Homo sapiens: one gene and its partner. Changing the gene in region 2 together with the main gene of any one other region gives a genetic interaction. Each region holds a gene or a part of one and is shown on either strand. Other genes may lie near its edges.

Evidence for each region. Genes that interact genetically often act in the same process or in processes that back each other up.
Region 1: changes in NDUFA9 (region 2) and SKIC8 together harm fitness more than expected from each alone (negative genetic interaction), as found in Homo sapiens cells (one large-scale study listed by BioGRID).

Annotation. Positions count from the first base shown.
Region 1 is NC_000015.10:78,289,610-78,293,109, forward strand, and holds part of SKIC8 (superkiller complex protein 8), read right to left. Parts: intron 3,180-3,500; coding exon 3,007-3,179; intron 491-3,006; coding exon 342-490; intron 104-341; coding exon 10-103; intron 1-9. UniProt on the Homo sapiens protein: Component of the PAF1 complex (PAF1C) which has multiple functions during transcription by RNA polymerase II and is implicated in regulation of development and maintenance of embryonic stem cell pluripotency.
Region 2 is NC_000012.12:4,690,614-4,694,113, forward strand, and holds part of NDUFA9 (NADH dehydrogenase [ubiquinone] 1 alpha subcomplex subunit 9, mitochondrial precursor), read left to right. Parts: 3' UTR 1-3,500. UniProt on the Homo sapiens protein: Accessory subunit of the mitochondrial membrane respiratory chain NADH dehydrogenase (Complex I), that is believed not to be involved in catalysis. Required for proper complex I assembly.

The sequences.
Region 1 (3,500 bases), on a different chromosome or scaffold from region 2:
GATATATACCTTCCAGGGTATGCAGAAGTTTTCCAGTTGCAATATCAAAAATATTGATGATTCCATCTATGGCTCCACTGGCTAGGTATTTCCCATCAGGACTCTGTTCAGAGAACATATGGAGAAATTAGCACTTTCAGACTCCGTGTTGTTAAGCTGTCCCTACCAAACACAAGCAAACCTCCTGCTATCTACAGGTCTAACTGGCTACTTGGCAAACCACACCAGTGAGACAGCAGCTGCCTGACCAGACCAAGACAGAATCTGTGGCAAGGACTGCAACAGGCTGGAAGGGTAAACTGAAAGAATCAGAAGGAGAACAGAGAGCAATGTTTCCTTACATATGCAATACTAAGAATGAATTTTCCTCTCGTGTCCAAAGAATATTCCTTTTTCCCACTTTCCACACCAAAAATGTTCACTTTCCCGACATGAGTTCCTGTGGCCAGATACTGGGAATCAGGAGAAAAGGCCAAAGTCCAGGCATCCACTGAACAGAAAAAAGAAGGACAAAAATACAGTGTGAAAAGACTTGGCCTTAATTTTAAAAACTAAAGTTTTACCAAAGGATACATCTTTTTAAATCGGAGTAGCAGTGTCCTGATTCAGAAAATTATGTTGTAAAGATGCTAATTCTTTATCAAGTTTAAATTTAGTTTAAGGGTTTCTTAAATTTTTAATTAAAATAGGACAATATCAAGTGTTAGCAAGGATGTGGAGAAACCAGAGCCTTCATACACTGGTGGGAATGTAAAACGGCACAGCCACTTTGAAAACCAGTTTGACAGTTTCTTAAGTGAAAACAAACACTTACCATGATACTCAGCAATTCTACTCCTAATGAAAACATATGTCCACACAAAGACTGGTACACTCATGGTCTTCGCTTCCTCCTACTTCCTTACTTCTCCACGACTGGGGATTGTCTCTCTTCTCTTTTTCTCTTCCTGTGTGGTGGTTCAGATTCTCCATGCATATTTTCAAGATAGGTAGAAACTAAGTGTCTATTTTCCCTACATTCATTAGACCCAAATTCATCCAAGGAGTTTTACCTTCAGATGAATTTAGCTGCTCTTTAGCTGTCAATAGCAATGCTTGCTTTTGTTACTGGACCAAATAACTGTTGGCTGTTTAATGGCCTGGTCTAGTTTTATGCAGAGTCCTATCCAAAAAGAAAATAAATCCAACTCTCAGACCCCATTCTTCCTTTTTTTTTTTGAGATTGAGTCTTGCTCTGTCACCTAGGCTGGAGTACGGTGGCATAATCTCGAGTTCAAGCTATTCTCTTGCCTCAGCTTCCTGAGTAGCTGGGACTACAGGTGCACACAACCATGTCCAGCTAATTTTTTGTATTTTTTAGTAGAGACAGGGTTTCACCATATTGGTCAGGCTGATCTTGAATTCCTGACCTCAAGTAATCCACCCGCCTCAGCCCCACAAAGTGTTGGGATTACAGGTGTGAGCCACCACACCTGGCCTCTTCTTTTTCTTTCATAACAGTAACCTTTAAAACTTTGCCACACTTGGAGAATATCCAGTAAAAGGTACTGTTTATCAGAGAAAGTGAGCTAGATACATACGCCATCCTTTTACTTGGAACCAATCCAGCACTGATTTCTTCAGCTGCCTTGTGCCCAGGGCTACAACCAGCATGGAATAACACCAGCATTATGAGCCCAGGGAAAGCTTAGGCGCCCAAGATGAAAAGGTAGAAACAGTTCTGTCTCTTCCTCTTTTCTTAAGACCATGCTTATATATTGGAGTCTTAATAGACTTTGCAGGATAGTTTGGGGACCCAAGTCCTCTGTAAGTAATGTAAGCAGGGTAAGGGTACATGTAAAGACAACCATCAGGGGAGTCAGGGTGCGTCTGGGTAGCTTTTTCCAAATACATATCCCACCCCACGTACTCTGAACACTATGATTCAGTGGATCCAAAATATGGACTGGGCAGGCATATTCTTAAAAGAGCTCCAGTGGTAAGAATTACAGACAAGAAATATTGCTTCTGAGGGAAAATGCACTCAGTTTCCAGACAACCCAGCCTCTTTAAAAACTCTGGGACCATCATTCTTTCCAATACAGGAACAGCCTAGAGTGGCTACTGAGCATAACTGGCGGGAGGCGAATCCATCCAGGGCACCAATCAAGGGAACTGTGTTCATGGAACACCTAAGCAGCTCTTCTATCATCAACCCAAAAAGGGGTGTGCCAGAGAAATGCCAGGCTATCTGCACCCTCTAGCAGTTACCACCCATTCTGGCAGAGCAGGTTCTGCTGGGGAATGTTGTGCAGCCATTTATAAGTAAATGTGAAGTTCAAAAGAATCCTGAAATGTCCTCTGCTGCTCCACATTAGTCAGCCTATGACATCATTAATTTCTGTCATCTCAGATGATGTTTACTGAGGCTGATGGACAAGATTATGCTGTTCTACAGTACTTAAAACAAAAAAAATTGATGTTTCTTAAAAGTTTCATATGTATCACATACCAAGAATCACACCCTTTAATCAAAATTAGTAGAGATGACCATGATACAGATCTATAAGGACCCCATGCTTTACATTCTAGGTTTCCGTAAGGCAGTGAATGAATCAGTTCAGAATATGGCAAATAAAGAACCTCTGGAAAATGCAAAATACAGGTCAACGCCAAACCAGCAGTTTTGAAATCCAAAAAGCTCTGGAAACTACAAGCTTTTTCTACAGGTTTACTACCAAAATTCATTTGGCAGCAAAATCTAACCTGAATTGACATAAGGCTATTTATAGCCTTTATTTATCTCCCTTAGTGTAAACATTCATGTTTACTTGCAGAGGTATTAGTCTTTCATTACAGTGCTGTTTCCAGCCCCACTGAGGGTATTATGTGAAATACAGTTCATGCACACATTATCACCCCTCTCAAATCCAAAAAATTCTGAGCTGTAAAACACATTCTATCCCTAAAGATTTTGGAAAAGAAATCATGAACCTCTATTATCTCCCCTACAAGTAAAACTCTTACCAGGTCCTGCATCTATGGACTTTATCTGTTTGCCATTTTCCAAGTCCCAAAGACGAATATGAGCATCAAGAGAGCTGGATGCAGCAATGGGCAGGGTGTGGCTGATGTCCACAGACACCACTCCCAGCTGATGTCCCTCCAGACTCCACTGTAGGTCCAGCCTCTCATCACGCCTTCAACAGGGGACAGAGAAATGGATTTCTTCACAAAGAACACACTTTACCTGGCATCTGAAATTCTGGGTCCCTGTGACTATGCAATACCAATGGTCTATGAAATACAGAATCAGAGAAGAGTTAATGAGCTACAGAACACCAAATGCTGCCAGGTTTTAAATGTAGGACTTTAAGATTTTTTTTTTTTAACTTTAGGGCTTTAATACAGAGTAACAGGAAAACAAGTGGGAAAAATAAGCTGCTGTTTTATACCACCATATTGCTATTGCTTTCTTGCCTAGAAAAAAGTATTTCCCGGACTGCAACTGGAGAGTTCAG
Region 2 (3,500 bases):
GCAGGAGAATCACTGAAACCTGGGAGGCAGAGGTTGCAGTGAGCTGAGATCACACCACTGCACTCCAGCCTGGGAGACAGAGGGAGACTCTGTCTAAAATAAATAATAATAATAATAATAATAAAGGTACATGATGGAAGCATATATGGGAATATATGCAAAGATCTCTGAGAAGATAAAGAAAGGTCTCTGGAAGGATTAGCAAAAACTCCATAGAAAACGGATTTTTAAAGCTGCATCTTGATGTTAACCTGCTGAAATGTGTGTGTTGGACCGGGGTGAGGAGGAAGCAGTCATTCATGCTGTGGAAGAGAACAGCATGAGCAATTGCAGTGGGGCATGAATGAGTGGGTGGTTATGAGTGGGAGGCAGAGTCCGTGAGTTGGGAGGGGCACAAGCGAGTTTAACCTTTACCTTGGAGGTGATGCAGAGCAGTTGAGTTCCATACAGATTTGGCTTCGAATATGAGTTCCACTACTTCTTAGTTGTGAGATTGGACAAGTCACTTGACCTCTCTTTGTCAGCCTCAGTTTTCTTGTTTATAAAATGGGGGTGATAGTAATAACTACATGATGGGATAGTGATGAGGAATTAAATGAGATCATGCATGTAAAATGCTGAGCCCTGCACATAATAAGAACTAAGTAAATGTGAGCCATTATCATTTAAGTAGGGAATATCATGCCCATCTGAGTCCATACATTTGTTTCCTGACTTAATAAAATAGCTGCCGTTCCTGAGAAGGAGGGATTCCTATTTCCCAAATGCTGGAAACAGGGACTTATAGAAGGTAAATTGCCCCATTAGTAAGTAGCTGAATTGGTTTTCCAACCTGGATCTTTCTGGCTACAAAACTGATGCCTTGTTCCAGAAAGGATTTAAGGATGCTCAGGAGGAAGACATTCCCAGAGTTACACTCTAGAAGGTCTTGGAGTGAATGGGAGGTATAGTGGAATGGAGGGCGTATTTGAAGAAACCCTTCCTGTGAAGGAAAATCCAAGAGAATGAAGTAAGGAGAGACTTAAACTTGAAAAGATTCTTGTGAGAGAAGGAAAGGGGCTATTTACAATAGAGAAGAGACTAGAAGAAAGTCTGAACTCACCTCCCTGGAAGCAGAGGGTGGTGGGGTTTTTGAGGGCTGTGTGAGAGTGTAGAAGTACTGAGAACAAGAAGCCATGTGGATCCTGTGAGGGCCAGGATGGGGGGGGGGGTCATGGGTCATCTGTGTTTGCTGATTGGCTTTATCCAAAGGAAGAGTAAACATCTCATCCTTATGACAGGAAGTAGTCCTGCAGCTTGGAGCAAGGTGCCCACCAAAGTTAGGCACATCCCACAGCAAGTGGGAGAAAGGAGTGCTATCTCCTTTTGAGGTTACATTTCAGAGAATGGTTCCCCTGGGTCCTTGAGAAAGACAGTCCTGGGTTGTAAAACTGGCAAGAGGCTGAGGGAAGATGTATGTCTCAAAGGGGAACTCAAATAATTTATAATTTTAAGTTTTCTGATGCTCTAAGGGAAGTCAGGTGCCTAATATTGGTGATGTGGTTTGGATGTCCCCACCCAAATCTCATGTTGCAATGTAATCTCCAGTGTTGGAGTTGGGGCCTAGTGGGAGGCGATTAGATCATGGAGTAGATTTATCATGAATGATTTAGTACCATTCTCTTGGTACAATCCTCAAGATAGTGAGTTCTTACAAGATCTGGTCATTTAAAAGTGTGAGGCAACTCTCCTCACCCCTTGTTCCTACTCCTACCATGTGAGGTGCTTGCTCCCTTTTCACCTACTGCCATGACTGGAAGCTTCCTGAAGCCTCCCCAGAAGCAGATGCCTATGTGACGCTTCCTGTACAGCCTGCAGAACCATGAGCCAATTAAACCTCTTTTCTTTATACATTACCTAGACTCAGATATTTCTTTATAGCAATACAAGAATGGCCTAATCGTGTTAGGAAGAAGCCTGTCTGAAGTGCAGTCAGGCTGAGGGGAGCATGAAGGCCATCTTGATGGGGGAAATCTTTTAGTACCCTAATGCGAGCAGATGATGATGTTGTTGGCAGAGAGGGAGGGTATAACTTGTGGTGCCTAGCCCTAGAGGGAATGGAAGGGCCAGAATCCAGAGCATAGGTGGGATTGTGTGGGCTGACAAGTAATAGTATATGATAGCATAGTATATGATAGCAGTAGTATACGATAGCATGTGTGTGAGTCCATTTTGTATTGCCATAAAGGAGTACCTGAAGCTGGGTAATTAATAAAGAAAAGGGGTTTATTTGGCTCACTGTTCTGTAGGCTGTACAAGCATGGCACTAACATCTGCTTGGCATGAGCCACCACACCCGGCCAGAATTTTATTTTTAGTGACTAGGCTTTCCTTTAAAACCTCTGTACTAGGCCGGGTGCAGTGGCTCGCGCCTGTAATCCCAGCACTTTGGGAGGCTGAGGTGGGAGGATCACTTGAGCCCAGGAGTTTGAGACCAGCCTGGGCAACAGAGTGAAACCCCATCTCTTTAAAAAAATAAAGCACTTGAAGCAGAACTTTTTATCTGTCATAATCACTGCTATGTCCACAGCACCTAAAACAGTCCCAGACATCTGTTGAATAAATGAATGAATGAGGTGGGAAGTCTTTCTTTACACTTAGATGAAAACTCCATCGGACCCCAAATTGTTCTGGTCTTGTTCAGGTAATAATTTTAATTCTATAATAAAATCTCAAGTTATAATAGGCTCAATTTGATAATTAGGATGCCCAGTGTTGTGTAATAATTAAAGCGTTAAATTTCCTCTCTGCCCCACAGCTGGGATCCAAGAAGACCCTGTGGCTGGCTACTCTTCTGTATTTTCATTTATCTCCACCCCCAGTTTACCAGCAGTGGTTATCCTCTCTCCAAGACTGGGCCAGGGGTGAGAAGGGCAGTCTTACCAGGCAAGGGTCTTTGCTGACAGATGTCTGGGCCTTCTTGACAGCAGGTGTTTAAAGCTGAATCTGGTTCTACTTTCAGGAGAGTGATGGTTTGAGATGGTAACTGAAGTTGTAGAAGTAGATGTTGAGGATGAAGTATCATATTAATAAAACATTGCCCATTAACACCTTAGCACAAATTAAAACTAGCTATACCTCACTGATAAGGACCTGAATGGCTAAATAATGATGAATGATTTATGGATGTAGCGGGGAACTGGGTGGAAGCAGTAGTAAGAAATTTGAATTAAGGAATCGTAAGGGAATCGAGATTATCTAGTTTCCCCTCGACATTTTATAACTGAATAAACAATAAAAAACAAGAGAAGTGACAGCTTTATAGCATCTGATTGGGGAAAAACACATCTTTTCTGGGGCTAGACAGTCCATAAATAGGACTTGGAAATGGAAGTGTAGGGGGAGATCCCATTGTACTTCAGTGGAAAACTATGCATTGTCTGGAATCTAGACTCTGGACAAAGACCCTTCCTTCCTGGCTGTTTGATTTTGATTCTATGGGAGCTATCTTGCAACTCTGT